Regions from separate parts of the Homo sapiens genome. Here region 2 is linked to region 1. A link means that fine-mapping ties the variant in region 1 to the expression of a gene that starts in the linked region. Tissue or cell type: whole blood. Region 1 holds a variant in brackets; the other region holds the start of a gene. All regions are shown on one strand. Distances are between the middles of the regions.

Region 1 (8,192 bases):
TACTGGAGATATATCTGCACTCTCATGTTTATTGCAGCACTGTTCACAATAGCCAAGATATGGAATCAACAATTCCACTGTGTCTACCAACGGATAAATGGATAAAGAAAGGTGGTGGCCAGGCACAGTGGCTCACGCCCGTAATCCCAGCACTTTTCAGGGCCAAGGCGAGCGGATCACTTGAGATCAGGAGTTCAAGACCAGCCTGGCCAACACGGAGAAACCTCATCTCTACTAAAAATACAAAAATTAGCCTGGTGTGGTGGCACGCACCTGTAATCCCAGCTACTGAGGAGGCTGAGGCAGGAGACTCGCTTGGACCGGGGAGGCAGAGGTTGCAGTGAGCTGAGATCATGCCACTGCACTCAGCCTGGGTGACAGAGTGAGACTCCATCTCAAAAAAAAAAAAAAGAAAAAAGAAAAAAAGAAAAGAAAAAGAAAATGTGGTATAGATACACAGTGGAATATTATTCAGCCATAGAAAAGAATAATATTGCCAGGAACGGTGGTTCACACCTGTAATCCCAATACTTTGGGAGGGTGAGGCAGGAGGATAGCTTGAGCCTGGGAGGTCAAGACTGCAGTGAGCTGTGATCACATCACTGAATTCCAGCCTTGGCAACAGAGCAAGACTCTGTCTCGAAAAAATAATAATAAAAAAATAAATAAAATCCTGTCCCTTGCAACAACATGGCTGGAACTAGAGAACATTATGTTAAGTGAAATAAGCCAGGCACAGAAAGACAAGTGTCTCATGTTCTCACTGATGGGGGAGCTAAGAAAATTGATCTCTTGGAGGTAGATAGTAGAATGATGGCTACTAGATGCTGGGAAGCATAGCATTCAGGGAGGATAAAAAGGAGCTGGTTAATGGGTGATGGAACTAAAGCATGTGATTAGTGCTGCAAAAATATAGTTAGATTGTAGGAATAAGATCGAGTGTTTGGTAGCACAATAGGGCGACTATCATTAACAATAATTTATTGTATATTTCAAAATAACTACAAGAGTAGATTTGGAATGTTCCCAGCACAAAGCAATGCTAAATGTTTGAGTTGATGGATATTCTAATTACTTTGATTTGGTCATTACACAGTGTACGCTTGTATCAAAATATCACATGTACCCCATAAATATGTAAAACTAATATGTATCCATGAAAATTAAAAATTAAAAAGAGAAAGTTCCAGTTGCTTCACCTTTTTGCCAACGCTTGGTGTGGTCAGTCTTTTAATTTTAGACATTCTAATATGTATGAGTTATACACTATCATGGTTTTAATCTTTATTTCCCTAAAGACTAATGATGTTTAGGATTTTTTCTTGCACTTATTTATCTTGCTTATATTTTCTTTTGTGAAGTACTTGTTTAAATATTTTGCCTACTTTTTTTTTTTTTTTTTTTGAACTGGAGTCTTACTCTGTTGCCCAGGCTGGAGTGCAGTGGCACAATCTCAGTTCACCGCAACCTCCACCTCCCAGGTCCAAGCGATACTCCTGCCTCAGCCTCCCGAGTAGCTGGCATTACAGGCGTGCGCCACCATGCCCGGCTAATTTTTGTATTTTTAGTAGAGATGGGGTTTCGCCAGGTTGGCCAGGCTGGTCTCCAACTCCTGACCTCAGGTGATCCACCCGCCTCAGCCTCCCAAAGTGCTGGGATTACAGGCGTGAGCCACCATGCCCGGCCAATTAAATGCTTTTTGTGCAGTCACTGAGAAGGCCTCATGATTTTCCTCACTTATGTGATAAGTTACATTTGTTGATTATTCTAATGTTAATTCACCACTGCATTCTGTGATAAATTCAACTTGGACATTGTATTAGCTTTTTATATATTTCTGGACTCAATTTTCTAACATATTGTAAAGGAATTTATTATCTATGGTTATTAAGGAGATTACCCTGAAATTTGTCTTTCTCTTCTTGTCCTTTTCTTATTTTTATCGTTATATAGCCTTCATTGAATATTTAGGGGAGTTTCTGAGTTCCCTCTTTTTCAATGCTCCAGAAGAATTTGTATAAGATTGAAATTATTTCTTGATAATTTAGTGGAAATAACTTTCAAAACCATGGACTTTGTGTCCTGTGTGTTTAGAAATCTTTTAATAATACTGATTCAATTTCTTTAGAAATTGTAAAACTCTATCCCTTTTTGTGTCGGGTTTTTTTTTTTTTTTCTTTTTTGAGACAGTCTTGCTCTGTTACCCAGGCTGGAGTGCTGTGGCATGATCTTGGCTCACTGCAGACTCTACATCCCAGGTTCAAGGGATTCTTGTGCCTCAGCCTCCCAGCTAGTTGGGATTACAGGCGTGTGCCACCACGTGAAGCTAATTTTTGTATTTTTAGTAGAGACAGAGTTTCACCACGTTGCCCAGACTCGTCTCGAACTCCTGATCTCATGTGATTCACCAACCTCAGCCTCCCAAAGTGCTGGTATTACAGGCATGAGCCACCACATCTGGCCAGGTTTTTCTTTTTTGCTATATTATTCTAGGAATTTGCCCACTTCATTTAAGTCATAAATTCATTAGCATGCATTTATTCAGAGTAGTTAGTTAAAACTTTTTTAATCTCTAGTGTTTCTGTACTCATATATTGTCTTTTTAATATTTATTTATTTCATACAGGATAGCATGTATTGATTTTTTTTTCTTTTGAAATGGAGTTTCGCTCTTGTTGCCCAAGCTGGAGAGCAATGGGGCAATCTCGGCTCACTGCAACCTCTGCCTCCTGGGTTCAAGCAATTCTCCTGCCTCAGCCTCCCAAGTAGCTGGGATTACAGGCATGCACCACCACGCCTGGCTAATTTTTTGTAGTTTTAGTAGAAACAGGGTTTCACCATGTTAGCCAGGCTGGTCTCGAACTCCCAAGCTTGTGATCTGCCCGCCTCAGCCTCCCAAAGTGCTGGGATTACAGGCGTGAGCCACCACGCCTGGCCCACATGTATTGATTTTTATACTTACTTTTGTAATTTGTATTTTATTCCCTCCTTCTTGGTGAGTGTACTCAAAATTTAGACTTTTCAAAGAATCCATTTTTCACCAATTTTAAAAAATTTGCCATTATCTTCTTCCTTCTACTTATTAAGAGTTTATTCTATTGCTCTTACTCTGTCATTAAGATGAATAATATGTACTTTACAATTTTAGTCATTCTGTCTTTCAAATATAAGCATTTAAAGATAAAAATTTTGCTGTATCCCGTAACTTTTTTTTTTGTTTTTTGAAACGGAGTTTTGTTCTTGTTGCCCAAACTGAAGTGCAATGGCACGATCTTGGCTCACTGCAACCTCTGCCTCCGGGGTTCAAGCGATTCTCCTGCCTCAGCCTCCCAAGTAGCTGGGATTACAGGCATGTGCCACCACGCCCGGCTAATTTTGTATTTTTAGTAGAGACAGGGTTTCACCGTGTTGACCAGGCTGGTCTCGAACTCCTGACCTCAAGTGATCTGCCCGCCTCAGCCTCCCAAAGTGCTGGGATTACAGGCGTGAGCCACCGTGCCCTGCACCATGACTTTTGATATATTTTATTTTCATTGTCATCCAGTTCTAATTTATTTTTTAAATTAAAATTTTTATTTTTTTGAGACAGGGTCTCACTCTTTCACCTAGGCTGGAGTGCAGTGGCTCAATCAGGGCTCACTGCAATCTTCGACCCCTGGGTTCAAGTGATCCTCCCCGCTCAGCCTATCAAGTAGCTGGGATTACAGGCGCGTGCCACCACACTTGGCTAATTTTGTATTTTTCATAGAGATGGGGTTTTGCCATGTTCCCCGGGATGGTCTCGAACTCCTGGGCTGAGGTGATCCACCCGCCTCAGCCTCCTAAAAGTGCTGAGATTACAGGTGTGACCCACTGTCACCAGCCTAGTTCTAATT[T/TA]AAAAAAAAAAAAAAAAAATTATGGCCAGGTGCGGTGGCTCACGCCAGTAATCCCAGCACTTTGGGAGGCTGAGGCGGGTGGATCATTTGAGGTCAGGAGTTTGAGACCAGCCTGGCCAACCTGTGAAACCCTGTCTCTACTAACAATACAAAAATTAACTGGGCATGATGGCATGCACCTGTAATCCCAGCTACTCGGGAGGGTGAGGCAGGAGAATCACTTGAACCCAGGAGTTGGAGGTTGCAGTGAGCCAAGATCATACCACCGCTCTCCAGCCTGGGTGACTGAGCAAGACTCCGTCTCAAAAAAAAAAAATAAAAATAAAAATAAATTATAATTGATTTAACCCATGAGTTATCAGGTTGTGTTTTTTACATTTCTAAGCATATAGAGGTTTTCATTTAACTGCTTATTACTGTCTTTTAAATAAATTGTTCTGAATGTTTTCACCTTAGATAACATTGCCTGTTCTACAATTTTGTATAAATTGATGCATATTATAGGTCTCAAACTCGTGGTCTCAAGCGATCCTCCCACCTTGGCCTCCCAAAGCACTGGGATTACAGGTGTGAGCCACTGCACATGGCTGTATTATATGTATTTTGAAAATTCAGCTTCTTCCACTGAGCGTTATGAATGTGAAATTTCTTCATGTTGTTGATTTAAAAAGTAATTCGTTCCTCTTTATTACTAAGTAGTATATTATTGCATAAATCTATCAATTTGTTTATTGTCTGCGGACGGACATTTGAGTTGTTTCCAGTGTTTGGCTATTTGTTGATAAAATGACTGTGAACATTTTCCACAACTTTTTCTGTTGAATATTTTCATTTCTTCTGGATAAAGTGAAATTGTTAGGTTGAAGAACAGATAAATATATATATAATATATATTATATATATTTTATATATAAATATATAAAATATAATATATATTATATATAAATATATAAAATATAATATATATTATATATATAAAATATAAAATATATATATATATATATTTTAGCTGTGGCCCAGGCTGGAGTGCAGTGGTACAATCATGGCTTATTGTAGCTTCAACCTCCTGGGCTCAAGCAATCCTCCTGCCTCAGATGGGACTACAGGCATGTGCCACTATGCCCAGCTTTTATCTATCTATCTATCTATCAATCTATCTATCTATCTATCTATCTATCTATTCATTGGCAAAGATGAGGTCTCACCACATTACCCAGGCTGGTTTTGAACTCTTGCCCTCAAGTGATCCTCCTGCCACGGCCTCCCAAAGTGCTGGGATTGCAGGCATGAGCCAGTGCACTCAGCCCAGACAGGCATAACTTTATTCTCACAAGGAATTGACAAAACTCGTCCAAAGTGGTGTTATGATTTTACATTCCCAACAGCATTAAAAAAAAGTTCCAGTTGTTGATGTGCCACCATTTGGTGCTGTCATCTTTTGAACTGGCCATTCTACTGAATACACAATAGCATCTCATTGTAATTTATGGGTTTTTTTATCTTTTTTTTTTTTTTTTTTTTTTGAGATGGAGTCTCACTCTGTCTCCAGGCTGGAGTGCAGTGGCAAGATCTCTGCTCACTGCAACCTCTGCCTCCCGGGTTCAAGCAATTCTCCTGTCTCAGCCTCCCCAGTAGCTGGGATTACAGGTGCATGCCACCACACCCAGCTAATTTTTGTATTTTTAGTAGAAACGGGGTTTCACCATGTTGGCCGGGATGATCTCAATCTCCTGACCTCGTGATCCACCTGCCTCGGCCTCCCAAAGTTCTAGGATTACAGGCATGAGCCACCACACTTGGCCACTTTTTATTTTATTTATTTATTTATTTTTGAGATGGGAGTCTCCCTCTGTCACCCAGCCTGGAGTGCAATGGCACGATCTCGGCTCACTGCAACCTCTGCCTCCGGGGTTCCAGTGATTCTCCTGCCTCAGCTTCCTAAGTAGCTGGGATTACAGGCATCTGCCATCACGCCCGAAGAATTTTTGTATTTTTAGTAGAGATGGGGTTTCACCATGTTGGTCAGGCTGGTCCTTGAACTCCTGACCTCGTGATCCACCTGCCTCAGCCTCCCAAAGTGCTGGGATTACAGGCATGAGCCACCACGCCTGGCCAATTTTTATTTTATTTTTGAGACGAGGTCTGGCTCTATCTCCCAGGCTGGAGTACAGTGGCATGATCTCCACTCACTGCAGCCTCCATCTCCTGGGCTCAGGTGATCCTTCCACCTTAGCCTCCCAAGTAGCTGGGACTACAGGCACAGGCTGTCACGCTCAGCTAATTTTTTGTGTTTTAGTAGAGACGGGGTTTCATCATGTTGCCCAGGCTGGTCTCGAACACCTGAGCTCAGGCAATCTGCCTGCCTCAGCCTCCCAAAGTGCTGGGATTACAGGCCTGAGCCACCACGCCTGGCCTCGTTCTTTCTTTTTGTAGTAGCTTTATAGTTTTAGCTTTTACATTGAGATCTATGATCCATATGGAATTAATTTTTATGTTTAGCATAAGGTAAGGGTCAAGATTTTTTTTTTAAATATGGGTATTCACTTGTTTCATAACCATTTGTTAAAAATATTTTAATTTCTACATTAAATTGCTCTGGTGCCTCTGTCAAAAATCAGTTGACCGTGTATCTGTTGACCTATTTCTAGGCTCTGCCTTCATTGTATTGATCTTGTCCTCATGCGAATACATGGTCTTGACCATTGTGGTTTTATCGTGAAACTAGAAGGTCAATAGTGTATGTCCTCCAGCTTTGTTATTCTTCAAGATTATTTTTACTATTTTATGTCCTTTGCATTTCCAGGTGAATTTTAGAATCAGCTTGTCAATTCTACTTTTATACAAAGTAGAAGTGTTGATATTGGAAATTTCTGCCTTGTTTTTGATCTTCAGAGGAAAGCATTCAGTGACTCATCAAGTTCAATTATTGTACACTTTTCATACCTGCTCTCTTCTGAGGGCGGGGATCAAGATTAGTTCCTATTTCTTTCTCTTTTTTTGAGACAGGGTCTCATTCTGTCACCCAGGCTGTAGGGCAGTGGTGCAATCACACCTCACTGCAGCCTCGACCTCCTGTGCTCATGAGATTCTCCTGCCTTAGTAGCTGCTAGTAGCTGGGACCACAGGCGCACACTACCACACCTGGCTAATTTTGTATTTTTTATAGAGACAGGGTTTCGCCATTTGCCCAGGCTGGTCTCAAACTCCTGTGCTCAAGCAATCCACCTGCCTTGGCCTCCCAAAGTGCTGGGATTACAGGCGTGAGCCACTGCGTTGTTGCTTGTTTCTTAACCATGAATAGGTGTTGCATTTTGGAAAATGGTTTTTCTGTATCTAAAGGATAATAAACCAATTTTACACTCCTTTGATAAATACCTTGTTGTGATGTATTATACTTTTTACATAGTAATGGATTTGATCTTGTAATACTTTGTTAAATATTTTGCATCTATAAAAATGTTGCTATTTTTTTTCCTTGCAATATCTTTGCGCTTTGTATTGGAGATATATAGGTAAGGCTTATACACTGATTTGGTAAGTATTCTCTTCTCTACTTTCTGTGTAAATGGATATTAATTCTTCCTTGTGTTTCATGTAATGCATCAATGAAGTCTTCTGGGACAGGACTTATATGTAGATTTTAAAGTACAAATTCAATTGTTTTGAATATAGGGCTAATGAGGCTTTCTGTTTCTTGAATTAGTTTTGGTAAGTTTGTTTTGCAAGGAATTCGTTCATTTAATTTGTAAAATTTACTGGCTTAAATTATTCATAAAATTCTTTATCTGACCGGGTGTGGTGGCTCACGTCTGTAATGCTTGCACTTTGGGAAACCAAGGCAGGAGGATCAGAGCTAAGTAGTTCAAGACCAGCCTGAGCAACAGAGTAAGACCTTGTCTCTATTAAGTAATAAAAATATTTTAATTATAAAAATTTTAAAATTATTTATCCTTTTAGGCCTATAGCATCTGTATTCCATCTTTTATTTCTGACGTTGATAATTTGTGTTTTTTTCTTTCTTGATTAGTCTTGCTAAGGATTTATCAGTTTTATTAACTACAAAGAATCATCTTTTGGCTTTGGTAAAATTTTTCTATTACTTGTCTTTTATTATATTAATTTCTGCTCATATTTTTTTCCTTGAACTTACTTTAGGTTTAATTGTTCATCTAGCTTCACATAGAAATTAGGATAATTTAAGCCTTCTTAATTTTCCTCTAAGCACTGCTTTAAGTGTATTCCACAAATTTTGATATGTTGCATTTTGTCATTCAGATCATTAAACTTTCTAATTCCCCTTCAAAGACTACTAGGAAG
Region 2 (8,160 bases), 93 kb after region 1:
CTTTTACAAAACTATCAATGGTCCCCATGTATCATAAGTGCAGAAAGAAAACACAATATATATTTTAGAATTTAAATCATTTAAATAAATTGGTTGCACAAAGCTCTCTTGGCGGAGAATAAAGAAAATCAAAACTTACCTGAAGTTATTAATTTATTACAGCTACTTATGCTTGCATCATCTTCTACAATTCGGTTTGTGCTCTTTTCTTTCCCAAGTAAAGTGTCCTCCAAAGGGAAGCATTTATCAGAAACGACAGTGTCTTCAACGACCACATGACTAATTTTGCTATTAGCTTCAAGTACTGAAGTGACCTCTTCCAACTGAGCAGCTTCACTAGATTCTGAATAAGAGGAACACTTAACCTGGGCTAAATTCTTTGAAGAAACTGGTAGAGACTCATCATCACTATCAAATCCAAAAGGATCTCCAGTACTTTCTTCTTCCACTTTAGGTTTCTTCGGAATTTCTTGGATATCTGGTTTGAAATTGGGCCTCTTCTGCCCTAATTTAGCCATAAATGTGGTCTCTCCCCATTTTGTGCTAAGGGTAGTCCGTTTGTTGGAAAAGACTTCATCGAATTTTGAACTGCCATTTCCACCTTTCCTACTGTATGTTTTCCCAAATCTGGATGTCATTTTGACACCAGTTTCATATTCTCTGTGAAAAAAAATTTAAGAAAACATATAATCATCAAATACAAGTGTTAAACAGTGCATATAAAAATAAAAACCTAGGGATTCTTCCCTCATGACTTTTGACACTCACCACACAGACTTTTAAATAAACAAATATGAGGAAGGGGTATAAAGAAAGGCTGATTTATTACCCTACATGCTTCCATGTCAATTTTCCTCCACAATGAGTACATATTCCTACGCTACTTACAAAGTAAAAAAACTTAATGATTAACCAACTTATAATACGATATCCATAAAGCTAACTTAAAATGAAGCATATTAAGTTCCAAATGAATTAATTTACTATTCTTATAAACATCATTTTTACCTTAAAAAATTATCTGTATAGAGGCTGGGAGGCCGAGGCAGGCAGCTCACTTGAGGCCAGGAGTTTGAGACCAGCCTGCCCAACACGGTGAAACCCCATCTCTACTAAAAATACAAAAATTAGCTGGGAGTGGTGGCACGCACCTGTAATCCCAGCTACTTGAGAAGCTGGAGCAGAAGAACCGCTTGAACTCAGGAGATGGAGGTTGCAGTGATATAATGATAACCTGTATAGGGTAATTACTTATATAAAATCTTAAGCACAGAATGTTAGTTTTTTTCAGGGCCTCAGAAATATCCAATACTTGATTAAATTTAGTTCTTTGAAATTTCATGGCACTAATTCACATGAGAAAAAAGGTCCCCAAAATGGTGCTTTTTCTCATGTTTTACAACCTGCAGCTTTTAACCCAATCTTGAAGATTCTGCTTCTTGGTGTAATGTAATTTGCGCTGTGACTTTAAAAATGTTCCTTAGATGGTCATCTCCCTAGGGAAAGAAACTATCCTTATCCTATCTGCCTTGTCCCGATAGTGCTGTGCTCATTTGCTGAGTTATATTTTCTGGGGCTAGTGAGCTCCAGCATATTACACTGTTTCATGGATTAATACAGACATAGAAACATACAACTTTTATTTTCCTTTTCAATTTATAAATGGCAAATCGATTCACCTGATTTATCTACTTCACAGGACAAAAAAAAAAATCTTTAGGGCAGTAAATCAAGAGTCAAACATTTTTTAAAACAAGTTACTTGCATTAGTTCTGTGCCTATTAAAAAGTTATAGTACTTTTTAAACATGATCAATCAGTAACCGTTTGTCTAACACTTTGACCTTTCTACAGTTCAAACATGAATACATCGAATATAACTTTAAAAAGTGAACAAGGGCCTAAGGAATGAAAAATCATTACTTTGAAAGCTACAAGAATTGAAATTATATTTGACCTATACTTTTGAATATGTTTTGATCTACACTTGTTTTCCCTTGATTAACTTAAATTCTTACCATTTATAATGAGTCACTGTCTGAGTTTTATATAAATTCAGTAGTAGACCCCCCCCCATGTTTGGTGAGAACCCAATTTTAATTTGACAAGGTAATAATTTAGTCATCATACATATCTGCGTTAAGAGAAAACAGTGTTCCTGAAGGAGATGTATTTCATCTTCCACTGCAGCTCTAACACTAACAAGTCTTACTGTCTTTCTTGTTAAGTACAGCCTAAACAAAACAGGATACTGGGCAACTACCACGGACAACAAAATAAAAATCGATTCTCTGTTCCTTCAAGAATGTAAAGCTGAGATCCTGCAGGTCTGTAAGTGTACGTACACATACACACCAACAAAGATGGAATGTTTTGGATTCACTTATGTGCTAATCATCTAAAAATACTAACCAAAGGCCAAACCAAAAATCTAGACTTGAGTTCCTTTATGCCAACATCAGAAAAACTGTTAAAATGGTTCTATAACCACAAAGCATTCACTGTTGAAAGTTTGAAGTCTTCAGATGAATACCTGACACTAAGGACTTAATTATTTTATGTGATAAAAAATAATTTTGTGCTGGCTGGGGGCGGCAGGTCACGCCTGTAATTCCAGCACTCTGGGAAGCCAAGACGGGCAGATCACCTGAGGCCAGGAGTTCGAGACCAGCCTGACCAACATGGAGAAACCACGTTTCTACTAAAAATAGAAAATTAGCCGGGCGTGGTGGCGCATGCCTGTAATCCCAGCTACTCCGGAGGCTGGGGCAGGAGAATCAATTGAACCTGGGAGGCGGAGGTTGCGGTGAGCTGAGATCGCGCCACTGCACTCCAGCCTGGGCAACAAGGGCGAAACTCCGTCTCAAAATAATAATAATAATGATAATAATAATTTTGTGCCAAAAGACCACGTCTTTTACAAATACATAGTGAAATACTGATGAAATAACGTCAGCGATTTTCCAACATTAAGGAATGAGAAGTGTATAGATGAAATAAATTTGTTTAATAGTCACTGCTAAATCCAAGCGATGGGTACAGAGAAGTTCATTATATAATATCTCCTCCTGATTGCCTTTATCGTTTCCCACAATAAAATGTCTTTGCAATGGCATTATCTAAGCGTAAAGCACTACAGATTCCAAAATAAGTGTGCAGACGTCCTTGAAGTTAAATTTTAAGTGTTTCAAGTACACAATCTTGCTCAACCTTTAAACTCCAAAGACTGTCCTAACTAAAAAGGAAAGAATGATTGACGACTAAGTCTTTTCGGTCGTTCGGCTTTTGCCCTAGCCCAAAATCAGGTCGAATTTTGAGAGAAGTGCGCTGTGATTTAAAAAAAAAAAAAAAAAAAAAAAAGCAAAAAGCCTTTATACTTCACTCCCACCCTAATCTAGCGTCTTCCCGATCCCCAAAGGCTTTAAGGGCTTCCATTAAAGATGGAAAGCGGACGGGACGAACCTGACTAACCAGAAATCCTCACCTGGGGACAGCCGGGGCGCCACGGGCAGTGGGCGCGATGGACCCCTCGGACTAGACACTCAATGCAACTTTTCTCCTCCCAACCCGCGCCGCCCAGGAAAGGGAGGTCACTTTCGACGCCCCGGAAGCCTCTGCCACCGAATCCTTAAGGCAGTGCAAGGCCCCAGTGGCGGCCAGAGGCGGATGAAACCACGGGAAAGGACTCGGGGCTGAAATCAACACACTTGACTGGGTTTGGGGAGCTAAGTCAATCAGCAGTCGCCCGAAAAAGAACTCCGAAAAAGGAAAATAAAAGGGGAAAAAAAGAGTTCCTCAGGTCATTCCCCTGCCCAACTTCCTCAGCGGCCCGGTGGGCGAGGCAGTGAGACTTCCACCGCCCGCTCCCAGCCTCTGCCTCCCCCACCCTCCCGGCTCCCTCCCGGCCTAGGCGGCCGCCCGACACCTCACTTACCCTCGGAGCCTGGCGGGTGCTTTGGCCACGGGCCGCCTCCGCCTCTCCCGCTCCCTACGGCCCGCGGGCGGGCGCGGAACCCTCGCGCGGGAGAGCAGGGCCGGCAGGTGAGAGCCGAGAGAGGCGAGGGACTCTGCTTTCGGTAAATAGGAAGCCCGGTTGGGGGGGCAGGAGCGGCGGCCCCGCAACTTCCCTCCCCGCCTCGAGCGCCGCCGGCCGGGCCCAGGCCTAGCTCTCGCTGGCCGCCACTGCTGGAGCTGGTAACAGAGCCTGCTGTGTGCCCCCGCTGGGCCGCCGCCGCCTCCTGCGCCGCCGCTTCCGCCGGTGAATGGTCAGTGCTGGAGTTTGAACAGGGCCCTGAACCATCTCAACGCCATTTGCGCTCCCGGCCCCCACCTCCTTCCTCCAACAGCCGCTCGCTCCGTCACTCCGCTTCCCACAGTCCCCGCGCGGCCGCCCGACCCCGCAGCCAATCGCGCAGCCGCTTACTCAAACCGCCGCGCAGGCGCTGCGCCCCGCATGCTCCGGCGCCCGCCATTGGCCCGGCCGCGGAGCCCGACGGGAGTTGTAGTCCAGGTCCGCGAGGTCGCGGGCCGAGGACCAGGCGCGGGAGCGGGAGCGGGCGACTGGCCGGGCCCTCCCGGTCTCGGCAGCCACTTCTAGCTCCCGGCCCAGCCGGGAGACGCAGGTGCCACGGAGATGGGCAGCCGGGCGGGTGGCGCAGTGCAGGCAGCTGTATCAATCGCTTCCCCTCCAGGGACCCGCCGGTGCCTGGGGACCGCGGGCTGTGCAGCTGTGCCGGGCCTGCGGAGGCCGCCGCCCGGGAGCTGGGAGGCAGGGGGCGCGTGGTCAAGAGCCGCCCTCGACCTGGCCTGGTCGGTCCTGGCCCGGCGTAGGTGACGATGGCGGGGACCGCGAGGCGCCGGACACCCGAGGCCACGAGCAGCGTCGCCCCTCGCTTTTTCGCGCCCCTCCAGCCCTGCAGTCCTTCCTCTAAGTCCGTCTGCCCCTCACCGATTGAAAGTGGCCCCGAGAATATTGGATGGTATTGAGCAATTATCATTAACTTTGTTGGGTGTGGTAACGGTAATGTGGTTATGGTTTTTTGTTTTTTTTTTTTTAAGACCTACTGATGTGTTGACAGAGTGATCTGGTGTCAGGACTGTAAAATACGCCTATGAAAACTGGGGGAGAGGAATAAAACAAGCTGGCAGAACGTTTTTCATCGTTGAAGCTGCGTGATGCGAGCATATGTGCTCATCATACAGTCTCTTTACTTGTGTATCTGAAATTTTCCATAATAAAAAGTTTAAAGAAGTGAACCAGCGATTGCCTCTAGGGAGGACAGTGAGGTGGCGGATGACGGGAGGAAGGAGTCTTAATTTTTCGCTGTACGCCTTTTTGTGCTATCTTAGGTTTTTCCCATTCAATGTGTTACCTAATTCAGAAAATTGGTAAGTTTTTTTTAAGGCTACCATGGGAAAACAGCGTTCTAAAGAGTAGCGCAACCAGTTCCCCCTAAGAGAGGTGCATGATTCGTCGGACTCCGACAGCCTTGGTGTTTGTTAGGCGGTTAATGGAGACCCACCTGGGAAATTAGAAAACTACTAATTGCTTTCAGTGAGAAGCCCGCCCTTCTCCCACAAATGGATAATTTGCTTTTAATGCACCCAGAAGTTATCCAGCTCCCTCCGGTATAATCGGGGAAACTCCAAATAAAGGAAAAATAGTTCAGAGACCCTGCAGCTCTTCCCAAGAGGAATTTAAGGTGGATTTTAGTGTGGTTGGATTGTTTTGCCTACCTGACTGCAGAATTTATATTCTGACATTTACAATTTCCTAAATACTGAATCAGTACTTTTTCTTGTTTCAAAATAAATCAACTTCTTCTGTAGTTTATATGAAAAACAAGTCCATGTCTTCCACTGTGGGTGGGATGCACATGACTGTTTTATTTGGGTCAGTTTTGTCTCTTTTTTTAATTGGCAGTTTAGGAACTTGTTTTTATCATTTTGTTTAAAGATCTTCTGGCAGAGGTGCAGGCTGCACTTACTATAATTATTTAGATGACAAGGTGGTGGGTGGTAATTAAAGGGTAATTATCATCAGAGGCAAAAGGTAAGATCAAAAAACCAGAAGAGGTGAGGAAACAATTGCAAGATCTTCCTGTAGGAGGGTGTCGTGATCCTCCCAAGACCAAAGGATATGTCTATTATGCCTGGCCTCTCTAGTGCTGGACACTTGGCAGGGTCAGTGCCTGCATGAGGCTGAAGTGGAAGGGCTTATTGTTTAGACTGGTGCCTTTTGAGGGCTTTTATGTGATGGTTGTGTTAAGTAATGAAACTTAGTAGTGTCAAATTCTTGCCACTCAAAGAATGATCCCCAATCAGCAGTGTAGCATCACCTGGAAGCCTGTAAGGAACGCATAATTCCTATCCCTCACCCCAGCTCCACTGAATCAGAACCTGCATTTTAACAGGATTCCCCCAGCTGATTGGGCTGCACATTAAAGTTTGACAAGCACTGATTTAAAGTATACCCATAGCATTTGACAGCAATCTAGTATTTTTCGTTAGGATGAGGGAGAGGAAGGGAGATGATTAAGAACCTCCTATGCATCAGGTAAGATGCTAGGCTGTTCAGGGGCCTTGTCTGCTTCCCAGTCCATTACTCTATCTTACAAGTAAGGAAATGGGAAGACTTGTATGTTACAACTAATGAGGGAGTCAAACTTTTTCTTGACGGTTGGATACCCTTTAGTACTTCTTGGTGTTCTTGAATCTGGTAGAAAGTGGTACATGATTTGAGAAGTAAAGTGTGTGTGAGTGTGTGTGTGTGTGTGTGTGTGTGTGTGTATTTAGTCTGTGGAAGCTTAGTATATGAATATTAAGCAGAGCTCTTCTGGGCTCTGTACCCTTGTGTGGCTCACACTAAAGACACCCCTCGGGCCCCTCCTGGAGGGAGTTCAGACTCCTGGCCCTGCAGGCTGTACCACCACCTTAACCCCTTACCTCCCTGCTTCCACTGAGGCAAGCAAATGCCCTGAAGTCCCCTCATTCCCTTACCAGGGCCCTGGGTTCCACACCAGAATGAGCAAACAGAACTCCAGTGTGGGTAACACATGGCTGAACAGCTTTTTGTTGTATTGTTTTTGTTTTCTTAGTTCTCTCAGCTCAGGCTCCATCCCCCTGGCCACCTCAACCCCTAGAATGGTTGTCTCCATTTCATGAGAATCTTCACACTAACATCAAGTAGCCAGTAGGTGCTTTTGGTTTTGCTAGAATGCCTGTGTGCAAGCTCTCAGATACCTGATTTTCTTTCCCCCACTGAATGTTGTGTTTGTCAGAAACTGAAATCATGGATCAGAGCCAAGTTTGTAGTACCCTTAGGAGGGGCCTCTGCCCTCCTGTGTGCTGCCTGGGTGAGGACAGAACCCCCTAACCTGGAGCTCCACTTGAGTGGGCCCATACCTGTACTTTCCTCTGAAAAAAGAAAATCCTGCAAAGAAAATAGAAGACATCTGTTCTGCCATTGCCATGCCCTTGTTCTAGCCCAGACATGAGAACTGTCAGAATTGGAGTTACTAAATAGAACTTTTAGTCTTTTTCTGATAATGTGTAGTAAAGTGTATTACAACTTATAGAATTCTATTTAGGGAACTACAGGTCAGAAACTACCATATTGGTAGCAGTCAATTTTTCTTTGCCATCGGATGTGGAATAAAATGTTAAATTGTACACTTGCATGTTGTGGTTATATTACAAAGCTCTACGAGATGTGGGCCAGGCCCTGCCCTTTGCTCATGCAGCCCCAACTTTCTGCTCTGCCCACACCTGACTCCTTGCTGTTTCCCCACCTTAGGGCCTTTGTATTTCCTATTCCCTCTGCCTACAACTCCCCCAGATACCAGCCTGCTTCAATTCTCTCCTCTAGGTTTTCACTCAGATGGGACTTTTCAATGAATCTCCCCTGACCAACCTATCTTAAATTGTTGCAACATCCTCACTCCTAAATGTCACTGTCCCTGCTTTACTTTCTTTAAGGGCATTTATCTTCCCATCTAACATATCAGGCATTTTGCATGTTTATCTTAAATGTTGTGCTCCCTCTGAAGGCAGGGATCTCTGCCTGTCTTGTTTTCTGCTGCAACCCTAGCACCTAGAAGACTGCCTGGCACAAGAGTAGGTGCTCAATAAATATTTGTTGAATAAAAGCACCCATTTATTT

Evidence for each region. PIP is the estimated chance that this variant, and not a neighbour inherited with it, causes the effect.
Region 2: WAPL starts here. The variant in region 1 is fine-mapped to the expression of WAPL in whole blood (INTERVAL, PIP above 0.99).

What each region holds. Positions count from the first base shown.
Region 1 is chr10:86,424,274-86,432,465 of GRCh38, forward strand. No RefSeq gene overlaps it. Among named protein-coding and RNA genes, the nearest start is that of GRID1, 62 kb to the left of the region's middle. RefSeq lists an enhancer at 7,192-7,361. The variant T/TA (reference allele first, on the strand shown) is at 3,876.
Region 2 is chr10:86,517,432-86,525,591 of GRCh38, forward strand. It overlaps WAPL (WAPL cohesin release factor), which reads right to left and starts at 4,361. Exons shown (of 19, transcript NM_015045.5): 1 at 3,934-4,361; 2 at 140-660. The coding sequence starts at 638. WAPL-DT (WAPL divergent transcript) reads left to right here and starts at 4,516. Exons shown (of 2, transcript NR_186498.1): 1 at 4,516-4,978; 2 at 5,078-7,670. RefSeq lists silencers at 3,855-4,274, 4,415-4,974.